2 separate regions of the Homo sapiens genome follow, and region 2 is linked to region 1. Evidence: fine-mapped expression QTL. A gene starts in region 1. The other region holds a variant in brackets. All regions are shown on one strand. Distances are from middle to middle. Region 1 holds the start of FPGT (fucose-1-phosphate guanylyltransferase). Region 2 overlaps LRRIQ3 (leucine rich repeats and IQ motif containing 3).

Region 1 (17,079 bases):
GAAAATTACCTTTAAAACTAATTATGTGAAAAAACAATGCTCCACAAATCAATCATTATTAAAAACAAAAATACTGATACACATCCAAAATAGTATCTCTTTTCTCAACTTAGTCTTGGAATATTTTTCATCAAAATGACTTATATGTACTTTTGCACTATTAATATTATGCTACAACAATTATGTTAATACAGTTTTCATTAACTGAGTTCAGTGAAACAGCCTACAAAAAATACCTATCTCTGGAATGTTACTCAAAAAGGCAAAGTGTACAATATTTAAAATATCTCTACATCAAACTGCTTTTTAAACTGATTTCTAGAAAAATTTGTTCCCTGTAAGTTATCATATCTTCTACATCTTTGTAGATAAGCATTTCTTCAATGGACAGCAACTTATAGCTATTCAGGCTGAATGCTGACTTGTTCTTAACAGCATTTAACATCTTTAGGGATGTTATAACTGAGTCACTCAAAGAAGAACAAACTGGGAAAATGCGTGCAGTCCACAAACTCAGACATGTCTTGTTACCAGAGAACAGTTCCTCTGTAACTTTAAGATTCCAAACATCTAAGCATGACAGGAAACAGACTCCAAAGAATTGAAGTAACTTTATATCTGACAATGTTTTCACACTCTTTTTCAAGTTGTCTTGCACTCCAAATGCCATAGTTGCATACTTTAAGCATCTATTCATCTTTAAGCTTAAGGAACATACAAAAGAATGTGCGGGGAGGGCAGCTTTTGTTAGGATGTAAGAACCACTAATAATGCAGTTTTCCCCAACTGAAACATCAGGCCCCAATCTGGAATACTCCACAACTGAGCCAGGTGCCACAGAACATCTTGAATCCAGTATGCTTTGAATGATACAGGATGTTTTGCCAGAGCATTCTGGTATATCTGGAAAGATACTAAAAGTTATGGACTGTAAGCCGAGCTCTGACTTTAAACTGTTATCTGAGGTAAAGTAAAACAAATATTCTTCGGTTGTTCCAATGTGATAAAATTTGGAGTTATTAAGAACAACAACATTTAGTGATGTTCCTTTAAGAAGATGAAATATTCTCTGCCTCATTTCTACCAACTCTGACTCTTCTTTAATGACATTTGATGTGTTTCTGGTGTACTCCACAGTTGCTCCAGGTCCCAAAGCCTGCAGAAAGTCACCATAGGCATCTATTTCACAGCTCAGTGTGCCTATTTTTTCATAAAAAGCAAGTAACATTTTTGCTGATTTATGATCCATATAAAATAGGCTATCTGTGTAGACATAGTCAGAGTCTAATTTAAGATCGGCAATGTCACCCCCAGCAAAGTCCTGTTGACAAAAATTTCCAGGTCTACACACAGCATTAAACTGATACATCTTTTCTATGCTGGGCTTATGAAGGAAACGATGGCAAGACCTGTATTCAAGGTCTCTATGTTTTAAATCATCAAAAGGATCTAAGACAAATACTCCATGTGTGGTACCTATCGTCAAACTAGAAGGATGAGCTAAAGCAGTAAAGCCAGGTTTGTCAAACCTAATAAACTCAAATTCTCCAATACTATAAAGTTCAATATCATCTGCACAGGTAACCAGAATTCCAGGATTCATATTTAAGGGGAAATCAATGTACATGGCTAGTTTTAATTCTAGCATCTGATAAATGGGGTTACCAAGAGGTAAAGCAGTGAAAATTTTTCCCAGAGCACTTGCATTTGGAAGTCGTTGACTGTAGCCACCTATAAAATTAAAACGAAATAACCATTTAAAAATGCAGTATTATTTATAAAATTTTCAAAACCCCAGGGTTTTATAACCCATAAGTTACAAATCAAAATATATTTAACGATATTTAATATATGCCACTTGTTACTGCAAATCAGGAAAGAATAATGAAATCCAAATTAAAAATTCGAAGAGAAATTTTCTTGTTGCCATTTGATATAAGACAATTTTAAAAACTGTAGGTCAGGAAAAAATTTAAATATACTGTAGAATCTGTGAAATGTTTTGAATTACATGTATAACAAATAAGAAGGACCACGGCCCAAAACATGATGTTGCATCTACATTTGTTTTTTTTTTTTTGAGATGAAGTCTTACTGTCACCCAGGCTGGAGTGCAGTGACGTGCGATCTTGGCTCACCACAACCTCCGTGTCCCAGGTTCAAGCGATTCTCCTGCCTCAGCCTCCCGAGTAGCTGGGATTACAGGCACCTGCCACCACGCCTGGCTAATTTTTGTATTTTTAGTAGAGACGAAGTTTCACCATGTTGGCCAGGCTGGTCTCAAACTCCTGACCTCAGGTGATTCACCCAACTCGGCCTCCCAAAGTGCTGGGATTACAGGCGTGAGCCACCACACCCAGCCTGTATCTACATTTTAAACAACAAATTTCAACCATGTTTAGACTTCTAATTAAGAATCTACTTCACAGAAGGCCAGGCGCGGTGGCTCAAGCCTGTAATACCAACACTTTGGGAGGCCGAGGCAGGCAGATCACGAGGTCAGGAGATCCAGACCATCCTGGCTAACACGGTGAAACCCCATCTCTACTAAAAATACAAAAAATTAGCTGGGCGTGGTGGCGGGCGCCTGTGGTCCCAGCTACTCTGGAGGCTGAGGCAGGAAAATGGCGTGAACCCGGGAGGCGAAGCTTGCAGCAGTGAGCGGAGATCGTGCCACTGCACTCCAGCCTGGGCGACAGAGCCAGACTCCATCTCAAAAAAAAAAAAAAATCTACTTCACAGAAAATAAAAGTTATAGAAAACTAATATACTAATGCTAAAATACTTGCTTCTTTACAACATTTCGCTCAATTATGGACAGCATATACATAGGTTGTCCCATAAGATCATAATGGAACTGAAAAATTCCTATCACCTAGTGATGTTGGAGCCATTGTAAAGTCCTAGCACGATGCACCACTCAAGTGGTGATGCTGGTATAAACAAACCTGCTGTGCTGCCAGTTTACTAAACTACAGAACATACAATTATGTATATAGTATATAATAATTGGTAATAAATGACTATTTTACTGGTTTATGTATTTACTATACTATACTTTTCATTGTTATTTTAGAATAAATTCATATGATACATACAAAAAAAAGTTAAGCATAAAATGGCCTCAGGCAGGTCCTTCAGGAGGTCTTTCAGAAGGCAGCATTGTTATCATAGGAGATGACAGCTCCTGAACTTTAGTAGGACTATAGAGGTAGTGATACTGATGATCCTGACCCAGTGTAGGCCTAAGCTAATATGTTTGTGTCTTCATTTCTAACCAAAATATTTAAAAAGTAAAAATAAAAACAACAAAATAAACCCTAACAATATAAAGAAAATATTTTTGTACAGCTGTACAGTGTTTGTGTTTTAAGCTGAATGTTATTACAAGAGAGTCAAAAAAATTAAGAAGTTTATAAAGTAAAAATGTTATAGTAAGCTAAGGTTAATTTATTACTGAAGATCAATAATACCTGTAAAGCACTTGGCAGCACACAGTACATTGTTCAACAAAAGAGAGCTAATAAGTTTCTGTTTTTTTCTTTTTTCAAAGAGCAGCCAATAGTCAAGTTTAGCACTAAGAATTATCTATTTCCAAAAAATAAAAATAAAAAAATTATCTAACTATGCATTTCCTGGTATCTAATTTAATTTTTACTAAACTGATAATAATTATTTTCTTAAATAAAATTGTAAATTAGATTGTTTTACACATTTTTAGGCTTCAAACCAGAACTTGGATGCTTTACTTTGACATCATCTTTACAAAGAATCATTGTTTTGTATGTAAATCATAAGAATGAAAAAGTGCCTTGGAAGCCATGTAGATGAATAATTCTAAAATACCTGTCCCTGGACTGGTGTCAGTTCATGACAGTTTTCATTAGCCCCTTAACATACATAGAAAAACAACAAAGGTTTTCATGTAACCAAAATTTTCACACAACTAAATGTATTCAATTTAAAAAGCTATTCTTCATTCTGAGACCATGTCCTTCCTACTTTTCTGTTTTAAAATGTCTTATTTTGTGTGTGTGATTTCTCTTTTATATATTTACTTGTCCACTCTGTATCTTGTCACATTTTCCTTTTATTTTTAAGCATTGTGGCCTCTGGCTATCAATAATCACACAAAAATGCAAGATAAAAAGTACTGGCAAAAGTCTAGTAATGACAGTGTTAAACCACCCTTCCCTCAAAGCAAGAATCCCCATTAAGGGAGAAAGAGTGTTAGGAAAAATAGCTAATGCATGCTGGCTTAATACCTAGGTGATGGGTTGACAGGTGCAGCAACCAACCATGGCACACGTTTACCTATGTAACAAACCTGCACATGGACCCTGGAACTTAAAATACAAATTAAAATTAAAAGAAAAATCCCCATTAAAGTATTCCCGAGAACTATTCATATTTGAATGAGTTGTCTTAGGAAAATAATTTTCTATATACATACCCAAAACAAAACAATATTCATAAAAGACTGACGATATACGTGATCTACAATTTTACGAGTAAAATTTGTGAAAATCACTATACTACTTACAACCTAAAAAAAGTCATGAAAATCATAAAATATTTGTTTTCAAAGCAGAATAACTTCAAAGATTCTTTTAAAAAAGAAGGAAAGTGTTTGCAAGAAAGAAAAAAGTCTCTAAAGTATTAAAGGTGGAAGACTAAAAAGAAAATGTAAATTAGTAAAGTATAACATTACCAGAGTGAATTAATAAGATGGTAAAAGAATTCCATTTATCTCCATATAGCTTTTCCAAACATTGAAGGGCACAAAGTGTTGATCCTCCATTTCCTTAAAAACAAAGTTAAAAAAGCACAATTTATTTAATAGAAACCTACTAAAACTTTGTCATGACAGTAAATTTAGGTGTTATATAACCTTAAGGATTTGCCTTTCAGGAATAAGTAAATAGATGGACATCAAAGGTATTGGCAATAGAACAAAATTAAAAACATCTCATAGCAAACAACCAATCAATAAATTAGCAATGAAACCCAGACAACAACCCTCAGTAATAAATGATGAGGTAATATTCTCCCCAAAATAGTAATTATAAGAAAGAAGAATCAATTACACAATCTGTAACACTAGAAGACTGATAAATATAAACATTCATACAGAGTTACAAATCACAAAGCCCATTTAAATAATTCTCCCAAATGACACAATCAAAAACACAAGTTAGAGTTCCTTTCGAAAAAAGATTTTTAGAACTTGGATTCCCAAAAAAAAATCTTAAATATAACTACCACACTAGTTATCTTGGGCCAGTTACTTAACTCTTGAGTACCTCAGATTCTCATCTATGGAAATAATATCACGCCTGTAATCCCAGCACTTTGGGAGGCCGAGGCAGGTGGATCACGAGGTCAGGAGATACAGACCGTCCTGGCTAACATGGTGAAACCCCGTCTCTACTAAAAAATACAAAAACAAAATTAGCCAGGCTGGTGGCAGTCACCTGTAGTCCCAGCTACTCGGGAGGCTGAGGCAGGAGAATGGCCTGAACCTGGGAGGCGGAGCTTGGAGTGAGCTAAGATCGCACCACTGCACTCCAGCCTGGGCAACAGAGCAAGACTCCTTCTCAAAAAAAAAAAAAAAAAAAAAAAAAGAAATAATAACAGTACTGACCTCATAGTTGTAAGGATTAAAATAATGTTGGCTAATTAGAATAATGCTAATGTCATATTAATGTCATATACAGATATCTTATCTCTGGTATCAGGGGGCTTCAACTTTAAGTATCACATAGAAAAGAGCATTCAGAAAAACAGCATTTATTTCTATTTGCAATGGACGGTCAAAGGGCAAAGTTGACCTAAACTAGGGTTTTCAAATATATGTATTATATTTAAGCCATGTGACAGTGTTCTTTTGCATTCTGCATTATGTCCCTAAGAGGTCAAGAGTATTTTTTCCCACTAATTGCTTTCTTCATGTAAATTGCTGGAGGAACTCTGGAGTGGAGAGGACCTCAAGGGTTCTACTGATAAGGTCCAAAGGAGTATTCCTATCTGAATAGTGTGAATTTCATTAAAACTAATAAAATTTTCTTTTAAGTAACATTCTGGAAGTTTTTCAAGGTAAGTCATAATGGGTAAGAACAGTTGCTATTCCTTTTATCTTTCTAAAAAAAGTCAATTTATGTTCAAATTTTAAAGTTTGTAAAGCTGTGGGTAGAGATATGCAGCTTATACACTGTAAGTCACAGAAACCTTTTCTTCAATGATTATTCTGCTTAGGACCTATATTATAAAACTGACCATAAAGCGCGTACCAATTTTGGCTCCAGCAGGATCCACAAAAACGTGATATTGAACTCCAAGGGGTAACTCCTTTCTTTTCAGCTTTTCTGACAGCTGTTGGTTGTAAGCAAGTTCCTGTTTTTCATCAGCCGCTGTTATTGCAACTATGTCCCAGAATTCTCCACGTGCTACAAGTTTGCCTATTTGGAAAAAGCAAGGAAATGAAAACAAAAATTATCAGAATTTTCTAGTTGCCACAGGTTTGCCTATTGAGAAAGATGATAAAGAAGGTAATATCCATTATCATCTTCCAAAATGTATCTTTGGCTTTTGAAAGTTAGGGAATAATTAGTGGTGCATTAATACGATTCAAAATAGTTATAATGAAGACTGTTCACAAGTTCCTTTTTTTTCTTTTAGATCACTCCCTCCTTTTATGGTTTGCAATCCAATTTAATTATAAATTCTGAATGACATAATGTTTCTTGATTAAGAGAGCGACTTTTAACTTGCCAAAGACTATTGCCTCAATTCTTCAATAAGAAGAGGAGATAAACATAAACAAATCTCCAGCTTTGCAAATCAATTCTTATGTATCACGGACACTTGGTGTTAGGTGACTAAGAAAGACACAACCCAAAGATCCCTTCCCTCAATGTTGCTGTTTATAAATGTGGGTACTTTATTTTCTATTACTTTAAGATGAACCATGCAAACTTACATAGGCTGTTAGAATATAACATAAAATTCTGGATAACAGAAGGTCCCAACTCTCTGATGACATCTTTAAAAGACAGTGTGCACTTTTAGTAGACAGTTGGAATCTCTTTATTGATAAACAAAATGATTTAGCATTTTAATTAGTTAACAAACAGAACTTGTCAGCTAGAATCTAATAGTCCTGAAAGTTTTACTGTTATCCAAGAATTAGTCCCAGTATTTTTTAAGCAGTCACTGCAACACAAATATAATCACTTTTATTAGACAGGTGTACAGGGATTAAGTGTCATAGCCAATTTTTTGATAACAAATTTCTTCCTTTTAATTTTTAATCCATAATTCCTCCATGTTCTGTTACTCCCTCAACAAACGGTTACATTACAGAAGTAGATGAACGTAATGTAAAGCGTGAAGTAGATAGGGGGCTGGCATCTACTCATAAAGTTCAAAATACTGTGCTTCGTATCTTTTAGATTTATTTAAAGCAACTTTTATTAATGAGCTAATCAATGCATAACTTCACTAGTAAGATTTTCTTCTTCTTCCTCCGCCCTCATTTTTAATATCTATACTACTAAGAATAAAGTAAGCAACAAGCATGTCAAGCAGGGACAGTGAAAAGAATAAAAAACTCAAAAGGATTATTAGCTAGCTACTCCTGGGGAGCGTCATAGGCCTACAGATGAGAAGTAAACGGGAAGTGACAGTCCAGCAAACCTCCTGGCACGTAAAAGCACCCTCCCTCTGCATTGCCCAGGAGAACTCCGGTGCCTTCTCTGGTACCTCTTAGCTCGGAAAACCTCCGCAATTTTCGCTGGGTGGCTTCTCGCAGCGATACTTCCGGAGGGTCCCTAGCAGCTGCCATAGCCCCACCTTCCCTGAGACCGCGCCGCACAGCACGCATGCGCCCTGGGGTGCGCCTCCGCCCGGTTGTTTCTGACCCGCCCCCTCCGTGCGTCGCCCACGTAACCACGCCCCCGGAGCGCCTTGGCTGGCGCCCGGAAAACCATGATGTGGAGAACTTGGATGTTGTCTTGTTTCTCTAGCAACGGTCTCAGGAGCAGATGGCCGCCCAGCGATTTGTCTGACTGTGTTGGGGCTGGGCCACTTGTCTCCAACTCATAAGGGCTTGCAGCCCAGTTGACCCGGTGAGTGGTTCAGTTTGGGTGACAAAATTGTTAGAACCGACCCGCTAAGGATAAGGCGAAACTACATTCTAGCTTCCCAGCTTTCACATCAAAGGCGGTTCGTCCTAACTGGTGGTTTGTTTCAGCCTGGAGCAGTTCCCCAGGATAGCCTGATAGAAGATCTCCGCCATCTCTCCTTTCCCCCGCCACCCCGGGCCATCTGCCCCCAACCCTGGGTCATGATACATACACAGTCTGAATATTTAAAATCTCTGCTCTTTCTAGGAACCTTAAGTTTGTGGTTCCTAGAGAGTGAGCCACCCCACCCCTCTGTTTTTTCTTAGTAGGCTACACACGACAGCCTCTCAAATAGTGTCTTTGAAAGTTGTATAAAATTCAGTCCGCAACCAGGCTCCAAATATTTTTGGTATTTTGGTTTCTTCTCTGGCATTCTTTTGTATATGCAGATTAATCTAGAATGTTCAATAACACTCTTAGGAATAAGTCAGCCTTTTTAGGTGTTTTTTTGGGTAGCTATATAAAGGTGTTCCTGTTATAGAACACGAGGTTTCTTGGTTTTACAGACCACTTCATCTTTACACAGAAGAAAACTGAATCAGAGAATAGTGAGTTAGTCAAGGTATCACAATTAGTAAGTAATAAAAGATTTAAGAAATATATTTCAATCCCAAACCCAGAACTTGTGGTATTTCACCATACCGTTTGATTTTTTGAGACGATTTCTCTGTATCAACGTCTTCATTAGGTACGTAGACATTCAGGGCACCATAAACTCTTGTCATAAATTTACTTAGTTTTTCTTCTCAGACTTGTTATACAATCGTGTTCTAATAGTGGAAACATTTGGATAAAATGGCAGATTAGATTACTCTTTCATAGTTTTACATTTAAAACTTCATTAATTAAAAAAACAGTATCTTATTGAAGAACATTTAGAAAATACAGAGACTTGAGTGAAAGTAACCAAAGGAGAAAGTAGCGAGAGAAGGTCAGAGAGAGAACAAAGGGCCATAGGAAGAATTTTGGTTTTTACTCTTGAGGGAAACAAAGCCATTGCAGGGTTTTGAAGTGACTTGGCTTATGTTTAAAGAGATCACTCGGAGATAGGAGAATAGATTATAATGGGGGATGAGGCAATGATAGAAGCAGGGAGACTTCTTTGGAGGTTACTGCAATATTGCAGGTGAGAGCTGGTGAAGGCTTGACCAGGATGGTAGCAGTGGGAATGGTGAGAAGTTGGTCAGATTCTGGATATATTTTTAAGACAAAAACAATAAAATGTGCTGATGGAATTAATGGGTGTGGACTGTAAGAGAAAAAGAGGAGTCAAAATGACTGCCTTGGGATGGATTGGCCATCAATTAAGATGGGTAAGTTTCCGACTGAGGAAGGTTTTTGGGGTAATAGGGTCCAGAATTTGATTTTGGACATGTGGAATAAAGAGACATGTGTATGCAGTGAATATGTAATGGAAGTTTGTGTGTGTATGTGTCTGTATGCATTATACATACGAGTCTAGAATTCAGGAGAGAGGTCTGGGCTAGAGATACAATTTTGGGAATTGTCAGCAAGAAGATAGAATTAATTTTAACTGTGGAACTAAGTGAGGTCCCAAGGGAGTGAAGGTCAGCAGAGCCTATATGTTTGGGGTCTGTATATTCTAATAAGGTGAAATAAAGAAGGAAGAAGTAACCAAATAAAAAATCCAGTGGTAACAATTGTGAGGAGACAAACAGAGTGATGTGTTAGATTCTATCATACAGAATATTAAATAGAGTATTTATTGGATCTAGGACGGTATCATACAGAATATTAGAGTATTTCTTGGATCTGGGAAGGATGGCCATAGAAATTGGATATTATTTTTTCTCAATATGACTATATCATGCAATCAAAATTTGCTGGAAATAAATATACCATATTATCAGCTATGGCTTCTGTTTTCTTTCTTTTCTCAAATTTTCATTAATATTAATTTTTAGTAAAAAAAAAATTAAAAAATACTATATATATGAGTAGGAGTAAATTTCCGTGGCAGTTGATTGTTGGAGGCAAAAAAAGTTTAGGGATTTTATTTAAGTTCATATTCACTATAATAAAACAGTGTGATATGACTGTTTAACATCTTAAGCTACCAGAGTATTATTATACTAGAGAATTCGCCACAGAGTTTTTCCAGGTATTTATCAGAATGTCATTTTACCAGAGTAAAATATATCAATCCAGCCAAGCTGTAAGCCCATTAATTCTGCACAAATCAAACACACAGGAAATAATCTGTTTAGTTTTGGATTCCACATTTTTAAAAAGATGTTGAACATACTAGACTATAATAAATTGAAAAATTATATTCTGTGGAGGCATTTGGGCTTTTTATTTCCAGGAGGAGAGTAGAGAGTATCTGAAGAGCTGCCATAAGGAAGAATGAGATAGATTTTTTAAAGCAACTTTATTGAGGTACAGGTTTAGAACATTTTCATCCCCCCATTAAAATGTCTTCCAACCCATTTACAGTTAATGCCAGTTACACTGTTTTTTTATTACTACAGGCATATAACTATGACTGTTGTGTGGAAATTATAGAGAAGAATGTTTTAATTTTCCCCCCTTCTTTATATGAGGAAGTTGAAGCCAAATGAATAGGGTCCTGGATTATATACTGTGGAGCTCGTAGTGCATGCTGTGGTCAGGCCAAGCTAGGGCTGTACTTGTTTCCAGTCCTTGTGCTTCATGGCTCTGTTTAACCACTGTTTCCTCCTGTTACCCTTCCTGACATGCAACGAAAGCAAAAATTGTCTTTTTGCAGTTTGTTTTATTTCGATTTATTTACTCAGCTAGCCTGTTCTCAATTTATTTCTTAAATATTTTTTTTCTCACTATGCCCTGTTGGAGGAACCCTCACACCCCTCAACTTTCTGTAGTGCAGAGAAACATTCTCCCACCCCTGAACTTTTATTATACTTCCTCCCTTAGTATTTTTGTAGATTTTTTTTCCAAATGGAGTTCCCCAGTAGTGTAATCATAATCTACTTTGTCCAAATACCAGGATGAGGTTTCGGGGAGGGGAAAGGGATAGGGAGAGGGCAAGTGGTTGAAGAATATAAATTAGTAGAGTCAAGAATTAAATTTTAATTAATGTAATACAATATTTATGACACTTAAGAAAAAGGTATTAATGGCTTAATTTTAGGAGATCCAAAATCTGTTCTATGAAAGCTAACCAAGGAATGTTTTGGGCTAGAAGAAATATTTGTCGTGCTAATTTCTTTATTAAGAGGTTGTGATTTCTGTGCAGATTATTTTCTGTGAATGTTTTTATTAATTTTGGCTGTTTAATATCCATCTTCTGGCTCACCACCTTTTAGTTTTTTCAGGCTTATGCTTTTGCAGTCTCCAAGTTGGAATAAAAATAAAAATTGAAAAATGAGGTCTCACAAAAGCTTTTTTTCTGAACAGAAGTATATAACCTTCTAAAATTCAAAAAGCCAATATATTTAAAGAAAAAAAGTTATAATTACAAATGAATTCTGATTCCTTGTTCTGAATGACTTTTCATGTCATTTGAAAACATATAGAATATGCCATGAAAATATAATGTTTTGTGCTACCAAGGTTATTTATATTAAGTTATAAATGCACTATATTCTGTGTTCATTTTCCAGGACACATGTACTAGTCTGACTGTTCTACTAGACTCTCCCCTTCTTAACTTTTAAAATATATTTTTTCTGTGATATAAAATTATGGCAATTCTTTTATATTTTTAGAGACAGGATTTTTATTTTTAGAGACAACCTTTCACCCATGCTGGAGTGCAATGGCAGATCATAGCTCACTCCTGGACTCAAGCATTCTCTTGCCTTGGCCTCTCAAAGTTCTGGGATTATGCAGGCATGAGTCACTGCACCGGCCCATGGCAATTCTTTATTAAAACAGTCGTTACTTAACAAATCTGTTATCCAAATAAAAAGTATTTAAAAAATATAATTTCTTTATTTTGTTAATAGAGATGCACTTAATATGTTGCAGACATTCTAAACTAAAAATAGTTTGTAATCACAATATGTATAAAATGTTACTGATTAGAATCCTTACAATTAGATTTTCTAAAAACTAAGACTTTTTATTCTTTTTTTATGATTTGATTTTATATGCAGATAACAGCTGTTGTGATAATTCTGGAGTCTAGTATTCAGATTTCCATCTAATATTATAGTTCATGCTTATAAAATAAATTACTTTCATGTAGACCATCAAATCTAATATTTTAATATATTACTTAAAATAATGATGATCTGTCTTCCAAGTATCTGAAAGCTTCAGTGAATAAGTGTTAAGTCTAAAGGTAATTAGTACACTCAGCAAAGACTTTCTTTGAAAACTTTTTTCCCAATATTTATTATGTATCACATTTGGAAAAGAAATAAATATACAAAATAAATAGTTTTTACTTCTTAATATTTAATTTAAATATTCATGAGTTATAACCTTGTATAGTTACACTTAATGTGTTTGCCATCAAAGTTGGGTGTGAAGATGAGATATAACTGATGTGCATTTTATTTTATAGACATGGTTTATATAGTGCAATTAAAATGTAGGATAATTTTTAAATTGGTACTTTAGTTGATACAAACTAAGGAAAGGTTTGCTGATAATGGTACTGATTTATTTTTAACTGCAGAATTTCTTTGAAACTGTGGTTGGAGACTTGATACGTTCTGTAACGTGTTGCTATACTTAATTTGCCTTTGAACATTATATTATTATTTGAACTTGATAATTTACAAATGTGTATATACATTTCACAAAATAGTTATAAAATTATCAAAGTCTAAAATGAATGAAAGTGACTAGATTCCTCCTCTATGTGCATATTTTAAATTTGCAACAAGTGGTAAAGGGCTTCCAACTTGGTAGAGGAGGATATATCAATTGTAGTGGTTTTTAGCTTCCCTTGGTAGGCAGTAGAATCATATGGGCCCATAGCTGCAATGATATGATTCAGGGGACATGCTCTGGGGCCTGGTCATTTGAGTTATTCCAGTTTTCAGATGTACAACATAAATAAATAATGAGAAACAAAATTGAAATGCTGCATGTGGTAGTTAAAACAAAATATGAAAAATCCCCACTTTTCCATAATGATTGGAAAGTTCGACAGAATATGTAGCTGAATAATATAAATAACTGACACATACGTTATATTCTGAATATAGAATACTAGTTTTTTCTGTAATTTATTACTCATGTTAATCTTTCCTTTTAATAGCAATAACCAGTATTATTATGTTCTGTTTTGTAATTTTTAAAAATATTAAGGTTGTTTATATACTGGCAAATACATATTGTTGGCAGAGGTGAATATTAATAGAGAAAATGAATGTAAATTAATATAGTGTATGGGGAAGACTGCTTATAAGACTAAATTATTTTAGTGTTCATATCACATCAACTAAAAAGAAACCAGTTGAGAAGATTTTAAAATATTGAATACATATGAAACAAAAATCAGTAAAGAGGAACTGAAAAATATGTTTTTAGACACATATTTCGGATAAGATTTGGTATTTGAGAGGAATACAAGAATTGGGAGAGAGGATGACAGGTAAGGGCTGAAAAGAAACTACCTGTTGGGTGCTATGCTTACTTCTTGGGTGACAAATTCATTCATACTCCAAATTGCAGCATTATGCAATATACTTTTGTAACAAACCTGCACATGTACTCCCTGATTCTAAAATAAAAGTTGGAAAAAAATTAACTCTGAATGTCCTAACAGATAAGGAAAGGATACATTTTGGAGTGAGATTTATTATTGCATGGTAAAAGTAACCACAGTGAGTATATGGAAAGACCTCCCCACTCTTCACTAAACATGTGAACTACAGGTTAATGGTTAGATGCTTTACATTGTAGAAGAACCTACATATAATCTGAGTAGAGTATTTATTTTTTATAGAGACTATAGATCTTTATGGACTCTTCTGGAATGAGATGATGATAAAATATGCCCCTCCTCCCAGAATATTTGAGAATATAATTAAGAATTACAATTTTCTTGAAAAATATGAGAAAAATTTTCTCATATTTACTTTGGATTAAATTTGCTGCTCTTTTTCAAGTTCTAGAAATGGCAGCTTATATGATTCATTTTAGATCTTTGCTCTTTTCTAATATATGTATTCAGTGCTATGAATTTCCTTTTAAGCACTGCTTGTACTATATCCCACAAATTTTGCTAAATTTTACATTTTATTTTTATTAGTTCAAAATATCTTTAAATTTTTATTGACCTATGTGTTACTTAGAAGTGTGTTTATAAATCTCCCAAGTATTTTGGAATTTTCCAGCTGTTTGCCTGTTATTGATATCTAGTTTAATTCCACTGTGGTCTGAGAGAAGATGTTGCATGGCTTCTGTTCTTTTGAATTTGATAAGGCATGTTTTATGGCCCAGAATGTGGTCTGTCTTGGTGAGTGAATGCTCCATGTGAGCTTGAAAAGAATGTATATTCTGTTGTTGTTGGATGAATTAAAATAAAACTAGTTGCTATTATTATTTTGGACAAATTATTCAACTAAGAATAAGAAAAATAAGAGATTTTTATTTTATCCTCACTTGTTCCTTTCCCAACACTCTTTCTTAACATAGATATGAGTATCTGACCTATATCATTTCTCTTCTCTCAGAACTTCTTTTAACATTTCTTACAAGGCAGGCCTACCAACAACAAATTACTTCAATATTTATCTAACAGAATTTATTTCTTTTTCACTTTTAAAGAATAATTTTGCACCATACAGTGTCCTTGATATAGTTTTTGAAGCATATATTTTATCTCGAATTGTTAATGGAACTAGGCATTCAATTAATTTTGTAGAGCTTACTGTATTAGTCTGTTTTCATGCTGCTGATAAAGACACACTCAACACTGGGTAATTTATAAAGAAAAAGAGGTTTAGTGGACTCACAGTTCCATGTGGCTGGGGAGGCCTCAGCATCATGACAGAAGGTGGAAGGCATATCTTACATGGCGGCAGACAAGAGAGAATGAGAACCAAGTGAAAGGGGTTTCCCCTTATAAATTCTAGGTCAGTGAGTTTTTTTTCTCTTAACACTTCAAATATTTCACTCCACTATCTTCTGCCTGCATGGTTTCTGATAAATCAAATGTCGTTATTATCTGTGATCCTTTATAAGTAAGATTTTTTAAAAATTCTTTGGCTTTTTCCAAGATTTTTTTTTTACCTTTGATTTTCTGAAGTTTGTATATTAATTATCTAGGTGTGAGGTTGTTTTTTTTTTATTTTCTTACATTTATCCTACATGATGTTCTCTGTTTCTTGAATCTGTGGCTTAGTGTCCGATGTTAGAGTAAATTGTCATTCATTATTGTTTTAAATACTGCTTTTATTCCTTTCTATTTTTCCTTTTTTGGCATTTTTATTACACGTATGTTACACATTTAGAAGTCCCACACTTCTGGAATGTTATGTTTTTTTTCAGTCTTTTTTTTTCTCTTTGGTTTTTAGTTTTGAATGTTTTTGTTGACATATCCTCAAAGTCAGAGATTCTTTTATCAGTCATGTCCCATCTACTAATGAGCCCTTCAAAGGTATTCTTCATTTCTGTTATAATGTTTTTGGTCTCTACCATTTCTTTTTTATTCTTTCTTAGAATATCTATCTCTCTACCTACATTATCCATTTGTTCTTGTATGTTGCCTACTTTTTCTATTAGAGCCATTAGCATATTAATCCTAGTTGTTTTCAATTCCCAGTCTGATATTTCCAACATCCCTGACATCTGTGTGTCTGTTCCTGATGAGTTTCTGTACTGCCTGTCTGTTGCTCCAATTTTGTGGTCAGCAGTTTACCCTATGACCTTACTTTGTGTAGCTAAGAAAAGTTGTTGATTTTTAGTTTGTTCAGCTTTCTAATGTGTTGTTAGGATGGAGTGACTACTCCAAGCTCCTTACATGCCATACTGGAAACTGCAGGTCCCTTGATACACTTTTTGAAGCATATATTTTATCTTGAATTGTTAATGGAACTAGGCATTCAATTAATTTTGTAGTGCTTACTGTATTAGTCTGTTTTCATGCTGCTGATAAAGACACACTCAACACCGGGTAATTTATAAAGAAAAAGAGGCTCAGTGGACTCACAGTTCCATGTGGCTGGGGAGGCCTCAGAATCGTGGTAGAAGGTGGAAGTCACATCTTACATGGCAGCAGACAAGAGAGAATGAGAACAAAGAAAAAGGGGTTTCCCCTTATAAAACCATCAGCTCTCATGAGACTTATTCACTACCACAAGAACGGTATGGAGAAAACTGCCACCATCATTCAATTATCTCCCACTGGGTCTCTCCCACAGCAAGTGGAAATTATGGGAGCTACAATTAAGATGAGATTTGGGTGGGGACACAGCCCAACCATATCATTAAGTGCCAAACACTGTTCTAAACCCTTTAGGTTGACTTATTTCGTCCTCATAAAAATTCTATGGGCTGTTATTATTATCTTCTTTTTACAGATAAGGAAACTGAGGCACAGCATACATAATTTACTTGAGATCACCAATCTCAGAACAACTTACATTTCATTTCCTTTTTCTGTACTTAGTTTATAGGGTGCTTGAAAAATAAAATGAACTTGTCGTAACCAGTAGAATGTGGCTGAGGAGACGCTTCAGTTGAACCTAAGCCTTAGGAAGTTTGGACAGGTTCTGCTTTTATGCTTTGGGAGCCCTTAAGCATGTAGAAAGTCTGGCTACCCTATTTCAGACACACATGGATAGATGACATGGAGAGGACAGGTCAACATAGAGAGGTCCTGAGACAGTATGGAAAGAAAGACTGGTTCATCTCAGCATTCCAGCTGAACCTAACCTTCCAGCAGTTCACTGGAGGAGTGAACTAACTGATGCTTCAGCCACTGTCAGTTGGA
Region 2 (17,079 bases), 180 kb after region 1:
AGTTAGGTTATCTCCTTAACAATGAAGAAAATGAGAGAGAAAGAACATGAATATCTTGTCTAAAATCACATCATCAATAAGCTGCAGGCTTTTTAGACTTCACCCTCTCTTTTTCTCCTCAACTTCAGATTTCTGAGTATACCTACACATAAATAAAGTATTTTATGATCTGGCCTAAATTTGTTTCTCCAGCCTTGCCTGCTGCCTTGTTCTCCTTCCCAGACTGTAAGACCCAGACAATTAGATTGATGCCAGTTCTTGGAGCATTCCAAGCTGTGCTACCCTCTCTACCTTTGTTTTGACCATGTTCGTGATATAAAAATAGTTTGAACAAAATTCTCTTCCACTTTCTGACTGGAAAATACACATCTTTCAAGATTCAGTTCAAAGGTTATTTTAACTTTAAACTTTTTTTTATCTTCCCCTCCTTGCTCTTTAGTTTATATTTACCAAGTTTTTACTCAAGTTTTTCCTCACTCTGACTTGTTACATAATGTTTTCACGATGAACCATAATATCTCATTTGTATATTTATATACATTTATTTCTCTTAACTTTTGATAAGCTTCATGTAGTTACATCATGTCATATTTATGTCTCCAGCATCTAAGGTTAGTGCCATGCATCACAATACATAATTGTTGAATAAATAAGGATGAATGAATGAAATCTCCTAAGACCTGTGACATTTCCCCGGTTTGGCAGGGTATTAGTCTACTAGGACTGCCATAACAAAATATCACAGGCTGGGTGGCTTAAACAGTAATTTATTTTCTCCCAGTTCTGGAGGTTGGAAGTCCAAGAACAAAGTGTCAGCAGGTGTGGTTTCTATTGAGCCCTCTCTCCTTGGCTTGCAGATGGCCACCTTTGCCTTGTGTCCTCCCATGGCCTTTCTTCTGTACACTCACATCTCTGCTCTTGCTTCCTCTTCTTATAAGTACACAAATTATATTGGATTAGGACCTACCCATATAATGTCATTTAGCCTTAACTACTTCTTAAAGGCCTTATCTCCAAATAGTCACATTCAAAGACACTGGGAGTTAGGACTTTGACATATGAATATGGTGGAATGCATTCAGACCATAACAGAGTCGAAGAAGTAGCTTGGGTTTAGTGAGGCTTAAGGAGATGTATTTTAGGTGATGACATAGGGTAGTTTAGATGCCTCTTTGGAAATCTAAGCCATAGTTTGTGAGAATTTTTAATTATAGCTTATAGATATCTCATAAATACTTGTCTGAGTATTGTTTAATGATATAACCAAGTTATATAAATGGAGTTGTGTCTTTCTCACTTGTATATGCCTATTTCGAAGACATCTAATTATTATCATTAATAGTCTAATAGATTGCCATGGTTTCAGTATTTAAAAGTATCTCATTCTATTACCTTTCTTTCTCCTCTTAGATCTCAAGAAATATATAAAAGACATTGTGAAGAAAAATTTGTTATGGATATGATTGCCTTTGAAAAAGCCTGTGAAAGACTTCAAGATGCTAAAACAAAAGTAGCAATTGTGAAAACAAATTTAGACTTTAAAGTTCCCAATGGACTGATAAAATGAATCAATGCCAGATCACATCCTATGATCATCTTAAATTATAGTCATTATTTTTAGTTGAAGGAATTTGAAATAATACTCTAAAGCAAGAAATACTCTACATCACAAGATGGATTTATATATAAGTCTTCTAAAAATATAAAGATTAGTTAAAATGTTTCTCTTATTGGTCATAATTTAACTTAAAGTTGACTTAGCACCTCTGAAAAATTTCTTAGATCAGATGCCTAAGGAACAATTAAACTGATTTAATGTATTGCAGACAATGTTGCAATGACATTGCTGATATTCTGTTTCATATTCTTTCTAAATATAGCAATTCATAAGCTAATTTAGGTTTTTCTGGAAACCTTAGAATAGTAATTTCTACTCCAACTGCTGACTTTTATTAAGACACTGTGTACGTTGATGACTTTTATTACCTGCTTTTATATATTTCCTGCTTATTTTGTTAAAACAATTTCTGAATTTATTTTTTAAAGTATGGTTTCAATATTTTGTCAGTGATATATGCTGTTATAAAAATTCAGAAAATATGAACTATGAAAAGTAAATTAAACATTCTTATCACCTTCCTTGAAGACTGTAAGATTTTTGTATATTTACTTTTGATGGGTTTGCCCTGTTTGGTATACATGTGAAGACAGGGAAAAGACAGAGGAGAGAAGCAAGAGACAACCCATATAATTATATATTGGAATCATAAAATATACAGAAATGGTATATATTAACCATAAGTCTGTTTAATACATACCAATGGTAGAAAATTTGAAAAATAAACTGTTAAAAAAGACAGAAAAATCCTTTGTAAAATTTGCATCCATTTTCAATAGTGATTTCATATATCTAGAAGGATGAGTGTCTCACTATAATTATGACATTGTTCACTAAATACGATGTAGCTAATGCTATTCAAAATTTCTCTTTAATACTCACTGGTTATATATGTAAGCCTTTAAAACATTATTGCTTAAAAAATTCCCTAGATAGAAAGAACCTGGCCTCCTAAATCCCTGTTTGGAGTATGATAGAGAATACCTGTTTTGTACTTTACATCATCCAAAAGAAAATTCAGTTATATTAAGGGCTTTGCAACCACATCAACTATATTAGGCCAGCATCTATGAGTGATTTAATCAGTAGAGAACTTGTTACCAAAATAGGAGTGCTACTATCACAAAAACCCAACGTATCGTACTGGCTTTGTGGGGTAGTAAGAAAACCAATATTGAAGACAGAAATATGGAGACCGAGGTCTACTCATACTATAGCCCATGTAAAGTTTTAAATGTTATGGGTTCTGGGTGTTAGTGTCCTATACTGCCTTTAACTTCATTATTCAGATCACTTATGTCTAAAAAAATTTTTTTAGTTAAATCTAGAAAGCAATATGTATATTGTTGGTTAATTTGTTTTCCTATTCCTACCCTTTCAGCCAGCACTTTTTAAAAGATTTCTTAGAATTCTGTTGCACTCTTTCATAGAGTAACTCTTACCTTCAGTGCAAATTACAGACTTAAGCAGAATGATTTTTTTTAAATTTCACACACCCACACAGACACAGATCACACATATGTACAGACACATACATAATAAAAGAAAGTCTAAAGAACAATATATTATTTCTACCTCAAATACTCTCTTTAGAAGCGCTACCATATTTCTTGATTTGTTTCTGGTATTTATCTTCTACAGATTGAGCATCCCTTATCCAAGTTGCTTGGGACCAGAATTGTTTCAGATTTCAGATTTTTTTTTAAATTCTGGAATATTTGCATATACATAATGAGGTATATTATGGATAGGACCAAAATTTAAACATGAAATTCATTTGTGTCTTATATACATTTGTACACATAGCTTGAATGTAATTTTATAAAACATTTTCAATAATTTGGTGCATGAAACAAAGTTTTGACCACATTTTTACTGTGACCCATCACATGAGGTCAGGTGTGGAATTTCCCACTTGTGTCATGTCAGGTATCAAAAAGTTTTGGACTTCGGAACATTTTGATTTCAGATTTTCAGATTAGGGATGCTTGACCTATAATAGCACGTCCCATCCCATTCAAATTAGAACATTAATGGTTCTTGAAAACCATGATTATATGACTTCTTCCTTGACTCCAGTTATTTTTCACTCCTGGCCGATACGCTCCATATCACAAATGTCACCTGCATAATTTTTAATGAAATCTAATACCCCAACACTGTGATCCATAGAAATTTGTCTAATCCTTCCAATTAGATGTATTTTACACTTTCTTCTGAGTCACTATAACAATTTAAAATATTGTATTTCAATTATAATAGCAGCATTATTTTTGAAAAGTAGAAAATGTATTTAAATTATAAAATGAAAGTAATAGCCTATGACCCACAGATAACCACTGTTAATATTTTGGGTTGTTTTTCTAGGTTTAGGGGTATATGTATGTATGCATGTTGTTCTGTTTACTGATCTCTTTTTCTTGCTTCTCACCCAACTCCTTCACCCTACCCTGTCACTTTCTGGGTCACTGACACTTAAACAATTGTTGGCTGAGCTCTTCCTGTCTTTGTCTTCATCCATAATCCTATGATAACTTTCGCACATAAAGCAAATGAGACATACGAGCACCACCCTATACATTCAAACATATACATTTTCTGACCAACAGTTTTATTGTAATTAATATATCATAATGGTTGAGTCTATACAGAGTGATTCAGCAGACTCTAGCTAGCATAAGTAGCAGCAAACACATTCATACTGGGGAAGAGATCCCATTTTTATACTGGTACAGATACAGGGTTTGAACTAGGATGCAGCAGTGGAAAGGGAGTAACCTATCTCCCTATCTTATTTTAGGCAAGTGAGGCTTCTCGGTTTTATGAGGCAAAGTATTAGTAGGCTTTGTGGGTTTTTAAGGAGGAAACTTGCTTGTCATTCACAATGGGGCTAAAGGTATCAGACATTCCCTCCCCCTACACTCAGCTACAGTGAGGGCACCTGATTGATTATTTATTCTTGCCCATGATTCTGGATCTTGAAATATTGCTAAGACAGAGGTAATTTATAAATTATTCACTGCCATTGCAGCTCAACATTCCAGGAGAGAAACTACTAGTTTCCTATGGCTGTATTACCAGAAGTTCTTCCAGATTCTTTCTGTGTTCTAACATGACTTTGTTTTGTGCCACTGGATTTGCTAAGTTCCTGCCCATACTTTAACCAGGGAATTTCTAGGCTTACTTTTCCCAGTAAGTGTCTGATTATCAATGGGAAACAGAGTTTTCACACAATAAAACTATGAAGGAGTACAGATAGAGCTCCAGCTATCCCTTGGAACATCTCCATATACTTCCATGTCTAGAGCTAAAGTTAATGGAACGCTGCCTCAACACTTTACAAGCAAGGGCTTGTATTTCTCAGGAAAGAATATTTGGGTAAGCCTACCAGGTAAAGCCTGTTATAGTGAATTGTTGGCTGAAGGCAAAAGTACCTTGAAGAGATGGTGGAGGTGGAAAGTAATGCATTTTAACTATGGCTTCATAAATATATACAGAAATAAAGATCACAACCTCTACTCATATTGCCTTCATGTTTTATCACGAATGCATTTGTATACTTTATATTTTTTCTTCCTCTCCATTTCCTCTATTCCATATAATATTAATGAAGTATCATAATAGAACTGGAGCATAATGGCCATTGCACAGTGATCCTGGGCTCCAAGCTGAATGTAGTAACTAATGAGACTTTGAGTTATTTCCCTTAGAGAAGTGGATAGAGAAAATGTATATGTTTAAATGTATGCTTTTGTAGTTGTATAAAGAATACTTATATTAGGATTGAGCCACCTTATGGGAGTAGTGAGAGGTGTTGGTATCATAAGAAAAATGTAGATGTACATTTGTCAGATTCTTTTGTTTACTTTTGCCTATAAATCATCTAAATGTTCTTTTTCTGGGGAAATACCCTTTGGCCTGTTTTGAGTTATTAACCATGTCTTAACACAAATTTAGAGGGATCAAAAAGTTTTCACTTCAACTCCTGGGATATAGAGCCAGTCGTTTGATGTTCATGTTAGCACTTCTAAAGTGATACCAGGACAAAAGACAAGAAGTCATTCCCAGTGGTGTTGAGTCCAAGAGTGGCAGCGAAAATTTCCAGTGATAGCAATGTCAAAGATGGCCATATATGTGGCATTGTCTACTGAGCTTCTGCTACCTAGCCTGCTTTGGTATCTACCCATTTTCTGAGCTTAGTCCCAGATTTCTTCATTTAGATTCATGAGTTACCAACAATCCTTCCAGTGAGTATCTTTGTTGTTCTTACTAGCAATGGTCTCAGTCGTACACCAGAATAAGAAGAATTCCAATACGTTTATTTTGTCTCAGTAAATCTCACTTTACAAATGTAAGAGATTTTTTTTTTTTTTTTTTTTTTTTTTTTTTTTTTTTTTTTGAGACAGAGTCTCACTCTGTTACCGAGGCTGGAGTGCAATGGTACAGCCTTGGTTCACTGCAACCTCCAACTTCTGTCTCCCGGATTCAAGCTATTCTCCTCCGTCCCAAGTAGCTGGGACTGCAGGCATGCACCACTATGCCCAGCTAATTTCTGGTATTTTTAGTAGAGACGGGGTTTCACTATATTGGCCAGGCTGGTCTCAAACTCCTGACCTCGTGATCCACCCACATCGGCCTCCCAAAGTGCTGGGATTACAGACATGCGCCACCGCACCCGGCTGTAAGAGATCTTTTTAAAGCGCAAAAAGTAGGCTTTTTGTCTTAATAATCTGTCAAATGGATATAATATTTATCTATCATGAAAGTTTTAAACATAAGTGAATGTGATATACCCAGAACAGTGCCTGGGCCATAGTAAGTGTTAGATAAGTGTTTGCTGTTATTATTCATTATTTTCCATGCTGGGAATTTTCCGCTTTGGGGAAAACTGGAAGGGAATGCTTCAGAGGCTGCTAATCAGAAGGCACAATAAATTGAAGTTCAGGCATGATACTTTGCCTGTACAGCCCTATGGCACTCATCTTACCCTATCTTTTGTTCCGGTCATTTGCCTATTTGTTTAATTGCCTCACTTAGGTTATAAAGTCTTTACAGTCAGAAAATGTGTTACCATCTTTCTATTGACAGCCTTCTCTAGCAGTGTCCTACACATTGCAATGGTCCTTAATAATCATTCACAGATATCTTCCTTGGCTATGATTTAGTGTGTAACAAAGTTGAAGATTTTTAAAGCCTACATTCAAAAAGAACAAAGAATCTCTTTATATATATTTTTACTTTTATTGTAAATATGTATATTGAAATGATTAAACAACTATTTGCTCTTTTCTGTAGTTTCCTATCTGCCCCACTTGTCACATTTATTGATTCCTTCTCTGCTAAATATACACTTTCTCAGGCCATTCAAATCTTACCAAAATACATAAACATCCTGTCTTGTGTTTTACATATCAATTCTATAAAATCAGACTTCCATTTCATCTTTTGACCCTGTAATGAAAACATCAACAAAATCACCAATAACCTCCTTCTTGCTAAGTCAAATCAACATCTTTTAGCCTGTATTTTGCTGGAACTTTCAGAAGCATTCACTACTATTAATTTTGCCCTCTTTGACACATCTTTTTCCATCTCAATTTCCATGACACCACATGCTGCTCTTTATATCCTTTCTTACCCTTCTGACTTTTTTTCCTGCTGTTATTTTTTCCTTAAATTTTGGTGCTATCACGTTCGTAAACTGAATGTTTGTGTCTCCCTAAAAGTTATATGTTGAAACCTAATCCCTCAAGTGATCATATTTAAAGGTGGGGCCTTTAGGAGATGATTAGGTCATAAGGGCAGAGCCCTAATGAATGGGATTAATGCTCATAAAAGAGGCCCCAGAGCATTCCCTCACCCCTTCTGCCATGTGAAG[A/G]CATAGCAAGAAGACAGCCATCTATGAACCAGGAAGCAGGTCCTCATAGACAGTGAGTCTGCCAGTGTCTTAATATTGGACTCCCAAGCCTCTAGGGATATGAGAAATAAATTTCTGTTATTCGTATGCCACCAAGTCTATGGTATTTATAGCATCCTGAACAGACTACTGCATCATTCTCCCATATATAGCTTTCTTCTCAATTTGTATGTTTCCTGGTTCACGGCATGCAAGGCCATGTTTTTTGACATTGCCCATAATCACATTGCCCATGTTCTAACAGGTCCTAACAGCATCTCTCTTGAGTTCCAGGCATATTTCTAATCATCCACTGAACATGTTCACTTGGATGACCCACATGGCATTCAAACTCAACATGCTACAGACTAAAATCATAGATCTTCCCTTTCAGAACCTATCCTGCAGGTCATCCTTAACATAATTCTCCACCACATGTCATATATAACCAACTCTTTTGCATCCTCTTATCTCATTGCTCTTAAAACTCTCCTCTGAATCTCCAATGACAATGTTTAGTTCTTGCTATTTCTTTCTTCAAATCTATTCTGCATATCCTGAAGTGGAAATCAACTCTTTGGTCATATCCCAACTGCAATAGGATAAAGTTAAAAAAAAAAAAACAAAAAAACCCTTTCCAAGTAGCAGGAAAGAAGAAAATCTTAATGGCCTTGACAGTTCCTACCTTTCCAGCTTCTCCTGCCATCAGAAGTCTCAAGCCCCATGTTCCACCTATCAGATTATTCAATTCTCTATCTCCTCTACCTCAAGTGCCCTTACGCTTTTGTCTGCTTAGAGAATTTCTGATTGATCTTCTAGAGTCAAGGGGCATGCTCTGAAAGTCTTTTATCCAGTGCTTCTGTGTATGCCTTTATTATATTATTGTATTATTATATTACTTATTTACATGGCATTACAACAAATTGATTATATGCTGTTCCACACATTTGACTGTGGATTCCCTGTATCTTAATTTGTTTATCCCCAGTGCTTAATAAAACAAGAAAGAGGGATATCTTTTAATTTCCTGTGTGTACTGTTTAGCCCTTGGAATGACATCAAGAACAAATAATACCCTTTAAATATTTTAATTGTTTATACTAAAATTTTCTGTCCTATGTAGAGGTCAAAGATTGATAAATATATCCTATAGATTGACAAAATTGAGATACGAGCATTCAGTGCCACTAATATTTCAAGAAAAAAACTCTAATCTGCTTCATTATTTGCATTAACTATCTAAACTATTCTGCTGAGGAATCAACTTTTAGGTTAAAAGCCCTATTTATAGTAATTTCAAAAACCTCCTATTTTCCCTTCTTTCCTACATTTAGAGAAAAAAAATACAAGGTTGAAAGCTGACTTTTTTTAGAATTTTACTTCTAAAAATGTGGTTCTTCAGATAAAGAAGAAGACTGATTATGAGAGTTAAATAAAGAATGGAGTACTTTATCATTGCTTTAGAAAGAGAGTTTCTAACACGCTACCTGCATGTGTAATTGTTAACCACTCTTTTCCTGGCCACCCCTTTTGCCTCCTCCTACCATCCTTCTAGCCAGAATGGATCCATATAAAAATGGCAGCTGCTCTCATGATTTACACGATAAAGTACTTTTGAGAAGAAGAAAGTCACCTGGTAATCATACAGATGTTGTTTTTTCATTTTTGTTTTTGTTTGTTCATTTGATAGGCTAACTCCAAAAACTCATCAGCATAGGTTAATATGGTTTAACTAATTTGCCTAAGAGTACACTATGTGGCCTCTGAGATGAGCTGGACCTTGTGAAAATGACAGACCTCTGCAGTAGAAATCTTTAGACAGTGGCCTTGTTCACCTGATATTGATATGTGGTAAAGGTCTCTATTACAAGGTGATCTTATTATATGAAATAAACACATCACAAAATGTGTTTTCCATGTGTGTTCATAAGTCTGTGGGTGTGTATATGTGTTTCCATGTATATGTGAATATGTAGGTGCCAGTCTCCATATGCAAATGAGAGCTATTGAAGATGACTGAAGCTCACAACATCAGTGGCTTAAACACCCAGGCAAAGGAAACATCTTTTTGGCCCAGTAACCTAAAGAGGGAAATATGCATAGTCAGTGCCCAGGCCACAAGGGGAGAAGGTTTTTTTTATTGTTTACTTCTGGAGAACTAGATAAATAACTGGTAAAACACAAAAATAAAGCCGAGTGCCAGGTAAATGTAGTAATGTAAAAGATCAGTTAGAGCTAGATCTAGGTTTTTATGGGGCCTGAAGCTTATTCAACTTGAGAGGATGCTCTTTTGGGAAAATAATACAAAATTATCAAGTTAAGTATAGGGCCTTGGAAGGGGACCATAATATGAGGGGTACTGAAGGTTAAGCCTCATTATCTTCACTGTAAATCTGCCTGTATAGTCTGAGAATCTAAAAGTCTCTTCAAGATGAAGGAAATAATTCATGAGAAAGTGGATTGTCAGAGGTGTAGAACCTTCTTTTATCTTCTCATGAATAGAGGTCATTACCAACCAGGCAGAAACTAAATGGTTATATCTGTATAATATGCAATACTTTTCAATTGATACACACAGTTCCTAGAAGTCAAGAAATGTATGATTTGATATATTATAATCCCTACTCTTCATATCAACACTTCCTCTATCATTTCAGGATAATTCCATCATGTTTAACAGCCTGACACTGTCAGACTAGGGTAACAGACCCTTTACTCTCAGTGACTTAGCCTAGTTTAGTTCATTTCTCACTGATACTCCATGTCCAGTGTGACTAAGGAAGACATCACTGTTTAATAGTGTCAGTGTCTTACAGATGGCCTGTGATGCTGCTATGGCAAAGAAAGAACATGGTAGAAAGGAGGGGGCCCAACCCTTAAATGGTTTGGCTCCAAAATGACATGTCAAGTCTGCTCAGAGTCCTTGGCCAGAACTTTACACATGGCTTCACCTAATACAAGAGCTTTTGGAAATGCTGGGGAGCAGATAAATGTTTTAGGGAGGAAGGACAGCCAAGTTCATCTCTAATACAGAGAATATTTACGGGGGCATTATCTTTGACCAGCCATCACAAGGGAACTTCATTTCAAATGCACACACACACACACACACACACACACACACACAAAGAACAGGTCCTCAAATAATATCGCTTCATTCAACAGAATTTCCTTACAAAATTGATGAGAAAAAAAAATTGATCCCTGGCTGGGGCCACTGTCTGTGGGGTGTTTGCATGTTCTGCCCATGGATTTGTGGATTTTCTCCATTTTGGTGTCCTATCACATCCCAAAACTGTGCACATTAGGTGAATTGCCTGTCTTTATGGTCTCAGTTTGAGTGAGTGTGGATGTGTGTGTGCATGCCCTTTGATGGGATAGCAGCTTGTCCAGGGTGGGTTCCCAGGATAGGCTCCAGCTACCCACTAGAATAAATGGGTTGGATAATGACTGAATGAATACAAATTATTGTCAAAAAAATTTGTAAAGTATACAATAATCATACAAATGTATAACAATAAATGACTCTGTACAAAAGCACTCAGTGAACTTGCCATATTTGTCATTGTTTTTGAACCGTGTGGTGATAGGAAGTACTCTTTAAAGTTTTCACTTTGCAAACATCTTGATTTAACCCACCACCACGATGACCACCGTCATTCACTTATTCACCAAAGTTGAGTAAATAATGATCTTACTTGTTTTAGTTAGTCTTTCTTATATGTATGTATAACTCACTGTTATTTCAATATTTAATATTAGAAGTCTTTTGTCTTTATTTAGAAGTTTGGTGATGCTTTTGTGACCAGAGATATGCCATAAGAACTTAACTCTTTTTAAAAATATATATTATTTATTTTATTATTTATTTATTTATTTATTTATTTATTTTTGAGATGGAGTTTCACTCTGTTGCCCAGGCTGGAGTGCAGTGGCTTTAACTATTATTGTGTGGGAGTCTAAGTCTCTTTGTAGGTCTCTAAGAACTTGCTTTATGAATCTGGGTGCTTCTGTATTGGGTCCATATATATTTAGGATAGTTAGCTCTTCTTGTTGCATTGATTCCTATACCATTATGTAATACCCTTCTCTGTCTCTTCTGATCATTGTTGGTTTAAAGTCTGTTTTATCAGAGACTAGGATTGCAACCCCTGCTTTTTTTTTTTTTTTTTTTTGCTTTCCATTTGTTTGGTAAATATTTCTCCCTCCCTTTATTTTGAGCCTATGTGTATCTTTGCATGTGAGATGAATCTGTTGAATACAGCACATTGATGGGTCTTGACTGTTTATCCAATTTGTGAGTCTGTGTCTTTTAATTGGAGCATTTAGCCCATTTACATTGAGGTTAATATTGTTATGTGTGCATTTGATCCTGTCATTATGATGCTAGCTGGTTCTTTCGCCCATTAGTTGATTTAGTTTCTTCACAATGTTGATGGTCTTTACAATTTGGCATGTTTTTGCAGTGGCTGGTACCAGTTGTTCCTTTCCATGTTTAGTGCTTCCTTCAGGAGCTCTTGTAAGACAGGCCTGGTGGTGACAAAATCTTTCAGCATTTGCTTGTCTATAAAGGCTTTTATTTCTCCTTCACTTATGAAGCTTAGTTTGACTGGTTATGAAATTCTGGGTTGAAAATTCTTTTCTTTAAGAACTTTGAATATTGGCTCCCACTCTCTTCTGGCTTGTAGGGTTTCTGCTGAGAGATCCACTGTTAGTCTGATAGGCTTCCTTTTGTGGGTAACCCGACTTTTCTCTCTGGCTGCCCTTAACGTTTTTTCTTTCATTTCAACCTTGGTGAATCTGATGGTTATGTGTCTTGGGGTTGCTCTTCTCAAGGAATATCTTTGTGGTGTTCTCTGTATTTCCTGAATTTGAATGTTGGCCTGCCTTGCTAGGTTGGGGAAGTTCTCCTGGATGATATCCTGAAGAGTGTTTTCCAACTTGGTTCCATTCTCCCCATCACTTTCAGGTACACCAGTCAAACGTAGATTTGGTCTTTTCACATAGTCCCATATTTCTTGGAGTCTTTGTTCATTTCTTTTCACTCTTTTTTCTCTTGTCTTTTCGCTTTATTTCATTAAGTTGATCTTCAATCACTGATATCCTTTCTTCTGCATGATTGATTCAGCTATTGAATCTTGTGTATGCTTCACTAAGTTCTCGTGCTGTGTTTTTCAGCTCCATCAGGTCATTTATGTTCATCTCTACACTTGTTATTCTAGTTAGCAATTCATCTAACTTTTTTCAAGGTTCTTAGCTTCCTTGCGTTGGGTTAGAACATGCTCCTTTACCTCGGAGGAGTTTCTTATTACCCACCTCCTGAAGCCTACTTCTGTCAATTCGCCAAACTAATTCTCCATCCAGTTTTGTTCCCTTGCTGGTGAGGAGTTGTGATCCTTTGGAGGAGAAGAGGCGTTCTGGTTTTGGAATTTTTCAGCCTTTCTGCACTGGTTTCTCCCCATCTTTGTGGTTTTATCTACCTTTGGTTTTTGATGTTGGCGACCTACAGATGGGGTCTTGGTGTTCACATCCTTTTTGTTGATGTTGATGCTATTCCTTTCTGTTTGTTAGTTTTCCTTCTAACAGTCAGGACCCTCAGCTGCAGGTCTGATGGAGTTTGCTGGACGGTCACTCCAGACCCTGTTTGCCTGGGTATCACCAGCAGAGGCTACAGAACAGCAAATATTGCTGCCTGATCCTTCCTCTGGAAGCTTAGTCCCAGAGGGACACCCATCAGGTGCCAGCCAGAGCTCTCCTGTATGAGGTGTCTGTCAGCCCCTACTGGGAGGTATCTCCCAGTCAGGCTACATGGGGGTCAGGGATCCACTTAAGGAGGCAGTCTGTCCATTATCAGAGCTCGAACACTGTGCTGGGAGAACCACTGCTCTCTTCAGAACTGTCAGGCAAGGACATTTAAGTCTGCTGAAGCTGTGCCCACAGTTGCCCCTTCTCCAAGGTGGCTCTGTCCCAGGGAGACTGGGGCTGCTGCCTTTTGTTCAGAGATGCCCTGCCCTCAGAGGTGGAATCTAGAGAGGCAGTCAGCCTTGCTGAGCTGTGGTGGGCTCTGCCCAGTTCGAATTTCCCTGTGGCTTTGTTTACACTGTGAGCATAATACTGCCTACTCAAGCCTCAGCAATGGCGGACGCCCCTCCCCCTGCCAAGCTCCAGATTTTTCAGGTCGATCTCAGACTGCTGTGCTAGCAGCGAGAATTTCAAGCCAGTGGATCTTAGCTTGCTGGGCTCTGTGGGCGTGTGACCCATGGTATAGTCTCTCACGGCTTCCCTTGGCTAAGAAAGGGAAATCCCCCAACCCCTTGTGCTTCCTGGGTGAGGCAATGCCCTGCCCTGCTTTGGCTTGCCCTCCATGGACTGCACTCACTGTCAAACCAGTCCCAATGAGATGAACCAGGTACCTCAGCTGGAAATGCAGAAGTCACCCAGCTTCTGTGTCGATCTTGCTGGGAGCTGCAGACCGGAGGTGTTCCTATTCGGCCATCTTGCCAGAAATCCTCTCCATAACTCTGTTCTAGTATCAATTAACCTTTGGTAAAATTGATTTTATTACACTGTTTTCCTTAAAGTCACAGTTTCTAAGAATCTATTGACAGTGTTAAGTGAGGACTTCATGTATGTATGTATATATATATGTGTGTGTGTGTACGTGTGTGTACATATATATGTGTAAATTTAAGATCAGTGCCATCTACATTTAGAAATTTGAATAGTGATTGGCATATATGAGAACTTAAGAATGTTTGTTGAATAAGTGAAAGATTAATGAGTGAATAGAGAATATTCATGATGACTGTAATTCTTGGAAGATGAAAAAAGAAGGCATGTGTTCCTAAAGTTCCAGCAAGAAAGCCCCAGTACTATAATATAATTCTGCCTTTTTTCCCCATATCTCTTTTCAGGTCTGGCCTGCTTGTGGCTCTAACTAACTAAAATTTCAAAAGTATTATATTCTGTCAAGTGAACCAAATTTAGCAAATAATTTGAACTCAGGATTCTTACTAGGACTGTTATTTTTAAACAAACAAAAGAATTAACCTTGAGAAGTTAAATGTAAAAAAAAAATAATGTTAGGCCAAGGGAGAAATTGAGGTGAACTACAGATCTACATGGCACTTGACTCACCAGGAGCTGAGAGGGAAAGCTAAGCAAACAGAAACTAAAAAATTAGTATTTACATTTTCTTGGCTGCAACCACCTAAAGTTTTCTTTAGAAAAGGGAATTATATAATTCTAATGAGTAAGTTTCCATAATTATTTTATTAAGAATATTTGTTTGGGTGGTATACAGATATATTCACTGCTTTAGCTGCTTTTAAAATATATTGAAAGCCATTATTCTTAGCAAACTAATGTAGGAACAGAAAACCAAATACTGCATGTTCTCACTAATAAGTGGAAGCTAAAAGATGAGAACTCATGGACACAAGGAAGGGAACTACAGTCACTGGAACCTATTGGAGGGTGAAGGGTGGAAGTAGGGAGAGGATCAGGAAAAATGACTAATGGGTCCTAGGCGTAATACCTGAGTGATGAAATAATCTGTACAACAAACCCCCATGACATGAGTTTACCTATGTAATAAACTTGCACATGTACCCCTGAACTTAAAATAAAAGTTAAAATAAATAAATAAATAACATTTTTCTCATTGTGTATTTTTTCATTTGTAATGTTATCAACACTATTTCTTTGTCATGCAAATGTATGTTATCAACATTTAAAATGAATTTATTTCTACTAGAATACACTTCATAATGGTGAGTTGTATAATGTAGCTTATTGCATTACAACACTGTTTGAGGAACTTTTCATCTTTTATCTCTCACTAGCTGACATCTGGCACTGTCCTAAACTGTCGTGCATGAGTTTTTTCCCCTCCATTTTCACTACTGCTTTCCAAAGAATTGCAAGTCCAGCAGAGTTCACCTGATTTTGCCTTTCTTTTCCTCCTATAAATTACAGGCAATATCTTTGTTCTTAAGTACTGGCTTTCTTTTGGAAAGACTAGCTTGCACCCTTATTTCATGGTCTGTGAGCCTATCACCACATAAGAGCCATGGGGAACCATTTCCACTAATGGACTTTGTACTCCCCAGTGCAGTTAATTTCACCCTTGTGGTCAGAAAGAGTTAATTTCCTTTGCCACCAGGGTGTTAACACAGACACTAAGGAGAAGATGATACCCTGTGTTTTTCCGGCATGGATGTCTTACAAGTCATTAACAATTTTATCTCCCAGAAATTTTCTTAGGTTTTTTTTCTTTTTTGTCTCTAGAAACTTTAAACATATACAACATGCAACCATTGCTCTTTAAAGGGCATCTCAACAGATTTAATTTTCTTATATATTTTTTGCCTTTCAAACAACTTGATGAGTTGCTTCATTAATCTCTTGGTCTTCCTGCCTCTCCTCCATCTGGCATCACTAGCAGATGGAGGCAGAGCTGCTCAGATATAAAGGGACAGACTCCAACTACAAATATATCATAAAGATAACAAACAAAGATACTTTGTGATTATTGGACAGTAAAAATTACATAAATTCCATCTATTATTTTCATATAGCTATTATTAAATATTGAATTTTACAGTGTAATTTGGTACATAAACTGTGAACTAGTGATTCTGGTTCATGCATTTATTCCACACATATTTGTTGAATACCTACTATGTGCCATGAAAGTAGCTTGGGATAAAATGAGGGTAAAATAAGACATAATCTTTGTTCTCAAAATGTATGTAAGTAATAGTTTCTAAGATACTGAGTATTGAGGGTACACATTAAAAAACTAATGGCAGAAAGATTTTCATAAATGCACCATGCTACTGTCCTTCTACCCTTCACACAGAAATCCTTTGTAAAGCCCTCTCAAGTAAACTGTATCCAACTTAACTTAGTATGTATCAGAGTCATTCTATTGCAATTAAACAATGCATTTATTGAGAAACAAATCCTTACTGAGCAACCACTATAAGCAATGGATTGTGCTTGGCCTGTGATGAATGCAAAGGACTATGAGGCAATTCTCCTTCTTCTTTCAAGGAATTAAAAAAGAAAAAAAACTTGATTAGATTAAAAACATGCACAAAAATAGTAAATTACAGTTAAAGAGAATATGTGGTAGATCTCAACCAACTCAGGGAGAAATATCTTCTGGGTGTCTCCATTTGAAAGGTTGGTAGGCACCTTAAGCTATAACCAAATGTACTCTCACCTTCTCCTTCACCCCACTGGGACTGCTTTCCTCTAAGGTCCCATCATCCAAGGCAGATACCAAGGCATCATCCTAGATCCCACTGTTCCACTATCCTGTTTATCTAAACAATCTATAACCCATTTCCAGTTAAAATATTTAAAATCAATTTCTTTGGTACTTCTCTCCATCACGAGTTCAGACCTTCATCATCTTTCACCTGGATGTACTGCAATGCAGCCCATTAACCCTTCTCCTTCCAGCTTTTCTGGCCCCACACCTCAGATTCATCATCTGTCTAAAATATAAATCTGTACCTACACTCCTTAGCTAAAAAATAAACCCTTAATGCCTCCC

What was found. PIP is the estimated chance that this variant, and not a neighbour inherited with it, causes the effect.
Region 2: its variant is fine-mapped to the expression of FPGT in lung (GTEx, PIP 0.98).

Annotation. Positions count from the first base shown.
Region 1 is chr1:74,189,043-74,206,121 of GRCh38, reverse strand. FPGT (fucose-1-phosphate guanylyltransferase) reads right to left here and starts at 7,880. Exons shown (of 4, transcript NM_003838.5): 1 at 7,762-7,880; 2 at 6,291-6,458; 3 at 4,712-4,804; 4 at 1-1,731. The coding sequence starts at 7,843. The coding sequence ends at 290. It overlaps LRRIQ3 (leucine rich repeats and IQ motif containing 3), which reads left to right and starts at 7,946. Exons shown (of 8, transcript NM_001105659.2): 1 at 7,946-8,126. It overlaps FPGT-TNNI3K (FPGT-TNNI3K readthrough), which reads right to left and starts at 7,880. Exons shown (of 27, transcript NM_001112808.3): 1 at 7,762-7,880; 2 at 6,291-6,458; 3 at 4,712-4,804. The coding sequence starts at 7,843. RefSeq lists a silencer at 7,943-8,042.
Region 2 is chr1:74,011,301-74,028,379 of GRCh38, reverse strand. LRRIQ3 (leucine rich repeats and IQ motif containing 3) reads left to right here. Exons shown (of 8, transcript NM_001105659.2): 8 at 1,411-2,365. The coding sequence ends at 1,567. Among named protein-coding and RNA genes, the nearest start is that of LRRIQ3, 180 kb to the left of the region's middle. The variant A/G (reference allele first, on the strand shown) is at 7,497.